Linked DNA regions of Homo sapiens. The protein of the gene in region 1 purifies or fractionates together with the protein of each later gene. This does not show direct contact. Each region holds a gene or a part of one and is shown on either strand. Other genes may lie near its edges.

Region 1 (3,500 bases):
ATGGAGACAAGAGTCTTACCACTTTACATGTATAAATAAGAACATCATTTGTACACATACTTTATAACCTAGGACATCAGTGTACAATACTTGGGCTGTTTCAAAACAATTTGAATTAAGTAAGAATGAGTGTTCCAGTTCATTACATCCCTATACTGCTTATCATTTATTGCCTTCATTTGTTTACATGACCTGCCAGACTTCTGAAGGCATTTGAATTTGTAATTAATGATCTAGATTAGGGTTCTTAAACATTTTCTGTAGGGCCAGATAGTAAATATTTTAGGCTTTGCAGGGTAACAAGCAAAATCGTGGATATTATGTAGGTACTTACAGAACAAGCTAAAACAAATTGCCACACTTTTTTTTTTCTTTCAAACTGTATCCAGCTTTATTAAAGATACTTTCCATAAACAATCATGGTATTTCAGGCAGGACATGGGCAGACAGTCATTAACAGTATACAACTTTCAAACTCTCTTCTTCAATGGACTACCAAAAATCAGCCGCTATAAAACCCAATGAAGTCCTCATCTGATGCTCTGAACAGGGAAAGTTTAGAGGGTTAACATTTCACATTTAGCATGTTGTTTAACAACTTTTCACAAGCCAACCCTGACTTTCAGGAAGTGAAATGAAAATGGCAGAATTTATCCGAAGATCCATAATCTAGAAATGGAACCACTGCTCTTTTGACAGGTGCCATCTCAGTGGCATCACTGGAAAGTCCAGATTGCCAGACACACTGGTAACCAATGACCGGGGGTCAGGTCCCAACAGATGTCTGGGCTTAAGGGGATTAAGTCTATGCTGAAAGATGGAAAGGGAAAAGAAGACATAAAAACGAATTTGTTTTTCCATACCACAAGGCTTTTGTGCCAAGGTGGCCATGTGTGTCAAAGTCAGGAAATCCCTCCTCCTGGGAGCCAAGAGGAAGTCTCTCAAAACTAGAAGGGAAAGATGTTTTCCCCGTATCAATCCAGCTTCAGAGATATTCTATTAGTGACACATACCCCTTCCCCCAAAAACAACAATGAAGTGTTCTGTGTGCTAACAACATAGCTTAAAAAAAGTAAAACAAAATTCTGCATTTTTATAAAACTTGATAAAGAATATTTCAAACTGTACAGTCACCAGAAGTACAGTTATAAAAAATGCACACACTTCACTTGGGATCTCCAGCACCTTCCCGCTCCTTGCCAGCATCAGCTTTTCTCTTTTTCCCTTTGGGTACCTTCTCTCCCTTCTTTGCAGGGGCCTTTTTAGGCTTGGGCTCTGGCTTTGGAGGAGCAGGTTTAGCAGACAACCTCGCAGATCTTCTCTGTGATTCATCCTTCACCTTGGCTTTATCTCCTTTAGCATCCCCTTCAGTCTTTCTCTTGGGCATGGCGGCGGCGGCGGCGGCGGGATGTGGGCACCGGGTGTGGGACGCAGCAGCGCGCGGGCTTTGGTCGGTCCAGGGGTCGTTCTTGCCTCTTCTCCTTCACACTGCTCCCACGCTTTTTTAATTGACAAAATTCAAAATATAGCCCAATTTTTTGTAATGCCTTTTTTGGTGAGAATAACATTGCCTCTAATCAGGGTTCTAAGTAAGTGTTCCCTGTGATCAAAATCAGTTGTAAATGATTGCCTATTAATGGTTATCATTAACCATCATTAACCATTAATACTAATGGTAATAAGATTTTACACATTTCATCTTTAAAAATGTCTTCTCATACAGATAGGTATTGCCAAATACTGCTATCAATCCAGGAGCATATGAAATTAACTGAGCATATTCATCACTTGGAAAGCATTTGTAAAATTCTTTTACATTTCTTCCCTTGAAATTTGCCTTTTAGCATGTCATTATTTTAATCACTTCTTACTGAAAATTAGGTTGAATCACCTCAATTGCAGTTAAATAGATTTTGAAACAGGGAAATTTCCTTTGCACTTGCACCTAGGTCCCTAAAAATGCTGAACTCAGAAAATATACTCACTAAAATTTGTGGGAATGGAAATCTTGTTTCTTTCTCTTTGATAGTATGACAAATGTGTAAGGATATTGTCATCAAATATTGTGATTCAAATATCGATTGTCAAAATGACTGTACCATATCAAAGTTGTTTTGCCTTGTGTTTTAGGCCATTCTTGCATTGCTATAAAGAAATACTTGATACTGGGTAATTTATAAGAAAAGAGGTATAATTGGCTCACAGTTCTCCAGGCTATAGGAAGCATAGCACTGGCATCTGCTTCTGGGGAAGCCTCAGGAAGCTTTTACTCATGGTAGAAGGCAAAATAGGAGAAGGCACTTCACATGGCGAAGGCAGGAGCAAGAGAGTGTGGGGGGCGAGTGCCACATACTTTGAAACAACAAGATCTCATAACTCATTATCTTAAGGACACCACCAAGGGGATAGTGCTAAACCATTCACGAGGGCCACATATAAGGGCTCACACCTGTAACCTTCACACATTGGGAAGCCGAGATGGGAAGATCTCAAGCCTAGGAGTTCAAGGTTACATTGAGGTGTAACTGTGTCTCTACACTCCAGCCTGGGCAACAGAGCAAGACCCTGTCTCTAAGTAAAAATAAAAATAGAGTCAAAGAACCATCCAGAATCATTTCCTTTTTAAAGTGACTATTTATGTCGCTTTCAATGTCCTTAACTCTTTAAGCAACTGTTCTTGCCAAAGGCCAGTAATCTTAAGTTTATTTTCTCTGGATATATTCAGCTGCTGCATCCAAACATAATTAATTCACACCATCAATAAATGGCTTTGCTTGGCTAACAAATGATTGACTTAGAGACTTACTGTTGTTGCAGCCTCATTTTCATTTTGTGAAGAAATTCTGCTTTGTTATTTCCATTTTAAATTTTCTAATTTTTCTAACAGTTGCTTGCCTGTGAGTTGGGAATACTGTGATGAGTGGTTTGTCTGGTAATGTCAATGGTTATTCTTTTAGCTTAGCTATATAGATGCTTTGTCGTCTAATTCAACATCAAAATAATTCACACCCTACTGTACTTTAAAAATAACAACAAAGTCCACTTTTCTTGTTTTGCTATAATAGATATGCTCTGGTAATAAAAAATAAAATGTGGGTTCATGTGATATACATGGCACTCAAAATGCTGTCGTTACAACCACATCAGTGATTTGTGATGTGTCAAACAGCAGTGTGAAGTGATGACAGTCACATTCAGTGTGTGTTGCAACCACTCAACTCTGCTATTGTTCAAGAAAGCAGCTGCAGTCCTCACTTCAGCAGCACATATACTAAAAAACTGGAATGGTACAGAGAAGATCAGAATGGTCCCTGCGCAAGGATGACATGCAAATTCGTGAAGCGTTCCATATTAAAAACAAAAAACAGCTGCAGATGATATGTAAACAAATGAGCATGGTATGTTCCAATCAAACTTTATGAACTCTGAAACTCTTAATTTCATACAATTCTAATTTTTAAAACTGATACATAATAGATGTCATAAAATTTTCACGTCAC
Region 2 (3,464 bases), on another chromosome or scaffold:
CCTCCCGAAGTGCTAGGATTATAGGCATGAGCCATCATGCTCAGCCATCCATTTGTTAATTAGGCAAGAAAATACAATATAAGGAGAGGGCAGATAAGATATAGAATACTAGAGAAATCCTTTCCAAGTCCTTTCTTTTGTTGATAAGGTACTTGGGGTTTGGAGGTCTTTTTCTATCTCTTTTTTTTTTTTTGTTTTTAATGTTTCCTTGTTCCGAAAAGTCCTTCTGTCTAAATACATAGTGAGGTCTTTCACATAAAAAGAAATGTTGTATGTGTCAGAAATCTTTGAATTGCAAGTGACGGAAACTTGATTCCAACTAGGAAAATCAAAACAAACTTTTTTCCTCATATAATGGGGAATAATGAATTGATCTGGTCTTAGGGGATGAATTCAGGAACTCAGATTATGTTGAAAGAGCTCATCTGTTTTCTTGTTATTTCTCTTTCTACATTGACCTCATTTTTTCCCATTCGAGGAAACTTTTTCCACATTGGTTCAGGAATGGCTGTTAGGTGACGGGGTTTGCTGTAGGCAACTCCAGGTTTAATTTGATAAAACTTAAAAAAATAAGGAGAGGCCGAGTGTGGTGGCTCACTCCTGTAATCCCAGCACTCTGAGAGGCCGAGGCGGGTGGATCACCTGAGGTCAGGAGTTCAAGACCAGCCTGAACAACATGGTGAAAGCCCGTCTCTAGTAAAAGTACAAAAATTAGCTGGGCCTGGTGGCACGTGCCTGTAATCCCAGCTACTCAGAGGCTGAGGCATGAGAATCACTTGAACCCTGGAGGCGGAGGTTGCAGTGAGCCAAGAACGTGCCATTGCACTCTAGCGTTGGCAACAAGAGCGAAACTCCCTCTCAAAAATAAATAAATAAATAAATAAGGAGAGTGCTCTTTGTCTCCTAAGCTGTTGAACATAAAATCCCAGGAACAGATCTGATTGGCCTAACTTAGGCCACATATCTGTCTTTGCACAGATCACCCTGGCCAGGGTCTTGGTCCTATGCCCATGCATTTATGTGTGTTTTTGGCTACTGTGATTGGTATTCCAAGTAGCAGATACCTTGTTAGAAGGTAATTCTGCTCTGACCAGAAGAGAGGAACGGTTGGCACCAGACAAAAACTGATGTCTATTTTGTCTATGTAATGGTTGTTTTAACTTTTTCTTTTTACAGACAGAAAGAATTTACTTTCAGGTTTTCTTACCTAAAGGGAGCAAAGAGAAGAGCAAACCAATGTTCTTTTGCCACCGATGGAGCATTGGAAAGGCCATAGACTTTGCCGCTTCTCTAGCCAGGCTTAAAAATGACAATAACAAATTTACAGCTAAGGTAACATCTCATTATAATAATATTTCTATATTAATAAAGGTTTTATGATGCTCCATTCAAGCATGTTTATTTATTACAGTATGACTTACTTCTCCCTTCACAGAAATTAAGGCTGTGTCACATTACTTCAGGAGAAGCCTTACCCTTGGATCATACTTTGGAAACCTGGATTGCTAAGGAGGATTGTCCTTTATATAATGGTGGAAATATAATCTTGGAATATCTTAATGATGAAGAACAATTCTGTAAAAATGTTGAATCTTACTTGGAATAGTCATTCAAAGATTCAAGTCAGAAATCACAGGGAAAATTCTATTACATGTTTAAGTCCATTTATTTTACTACAAATACTATTTTTGTAATTTTTAAAAGTTGCTTTTTAACTTATTTCCCCTTATGTCACATTTTAAATTATGAGTTTTCTATTAGAGTTTTTTGGTTTTAAGTTTAATTGTGTACGGATCCTCAATTATTAGCAAATTCTTATATTTAATTAGCTTTCATTAGTTTATGCTGTAGTGACAACAACAAAGATGTATTTCCTGGTGGGGGATGTCAGCTGTTGATTGGCTGTGACACTGCTTTGTGTCATCTTCTTACCATGATCAAAGGCAAAGGAAGGGATCTCTTTTGGGACATTGTGATTGTTTTAGCAGAGAGAGAAAGAGATGAAATACACTTCGGTTTTCTCTTAAAAGATGCATGTATCATACGTGCTTTAAGCAAGTCATGTGGCCAAGCCTAGCATCATGGAGCCAGAAAGTATAGCCTTGCTGTCTGTCTACATCATGATGTATAAATTGATATATCTACATGAATTATAGAAACTTAGAAGTGATCTTTATTCAGTCTTATAATTTTTACATGAAGAATCTTAGGCCTAGGAGGAGAAAATGATTTTCTTTCTATTACCTAACTAGATTGGGGCATATTTCTGATAAAGACCCACCTCTAGTGAGATTCATCTTTTTTGTTTGTGTGACTATATTCCATAGAGAAGAAAGATGGGATAGCTCAACTTCATTATATACCAAAGCAAAACACATGCCAAATGATGACTACATTTTACCAACATATTTAGACGAGTATTCTTGACTAGTGTTTACTATCTATACCCCCAAAACTACTACTATATAGACAGAATGGAAAGTATTTCTATTTGTCCTTTTTTTGTTTTCTGTTCTAATTGTCAGGGACATATGTAGTGGCTATAGGTTTACTTAAAAGGAATAAATTTGGAATGCTCATTTGGTTTATTTCCTTTCTAATTCTTCATATTATTTTTATGTGAGGAATGGAGATAATTTCCAACTTTTATTATGTTCTTGTACTTTCATTCATTAGCATAGTTATTTGAGTTCCCACTAAATGTAGGGATTTGTCCTAATTGCCATGATTAATACAATGATGATATGTATACATACAGGTATACCTTGGAAATATTGTGGGTTCAGTTTCAGACTACCACACAAAGCAAATATTGGAGTATATTGAGCCAGACAAATTTTTTTTTGTTTCCCAGGGCATATAAAAATTATGTTTACACTATACTATAGTCTATTTAATGTGCAATAGCATTATGTCTAAAAAATGTATATACTTTAAGTAAAAAAATACTTTATTGCTAAAAAATGCTAATAATATCTGAGCCTTCAACAATTTGTAATGTTTTTGCTGATGGAGGGTCTTGCCTAATTTCAATAGCTACTGACTGATTGGGGCGGTAGTTACAGAAGGTTGGGGTGGCTGTGACAACTTCTTAAAATAAGACCACAGTGAAGTTTGCCACATTGATTGACTCTTCTTTTCATGAAAGATTTCTGTGTAGCATGCAATGCTTTTGATAGCATTTTTTCCTGAGTAGAACCTCTTTCAAAATTGAAGTCAATCCTCTTAAACCCTGCCACAGCTTTATCAACTAAGATAATGGAATATCTAAATTTTTTGTTACCATTTCAACAATGTTCTTAGCATCTTCACTAGGAGGAGATTCTCTCTTATTTTATTTATTTATTTATTTATTTTTTCTGAGGTGGAGTTTCACTCTTGTTGCCCAGGTTGGAGTACAGTGGTGTGATCTTGGCTCACTGCAACCTCCGCTTCCCAGGTTCAAGTGATTCTCCTGCCTCAGC

What was found. The genes of interacting proteins can lie anywhere in the genome.
Region 2: the proteins of TRMT5 (region 1) and ZFAND1 fractionate together in Homo sapiens (co-fractionation; one large-scale study listed by BioGRID). This does not show direct contact.

Annotation. Positions count from the first base shown.
Region 1 is NC_000014.9:60,971,080-60,974,579, forward strand, and holds the end of TRMT5 (tRNA (guanine(37)-N(1))-methyltransferase), read right to left. Parts: 3' UTR 362-3,500; downstream 1-361. UniProt on the Homo sapiens protein: Involved in mitochondrial tRNA methylation. Specifically methylates the N1 position of guanosine-37 in various tRNAs. Methylation is not dependent on the nature of the nucleoside 5' of the target nucleoside.
Region 2 is NC_000008.11:81,700,837-81,704,300, reverse strand, and holds the end of ZFAND1 (AN1-type zinc finger protein 1), read left to right. Parts: intron 1-1,176; coding exon 1,177-1,332; coding exon of another isoform or gene 1,333-1,380; exon of another isoform or gene 1,381-1,387; intron 1,388-1,435; coding exon 1,436-1,606; 3' UTR 1,607-2,964; downstream 2,965-3,464. UniProt on the Homo sapiens protein: Plays a role in the regulation of cytoplasmic stress granules (SGs) turnover. SGs are dynamic and transient cytoplasmic ribonucleoprotein assemblies important for cellular protein homeostasis when protein production is suspended after acute exogenous stress.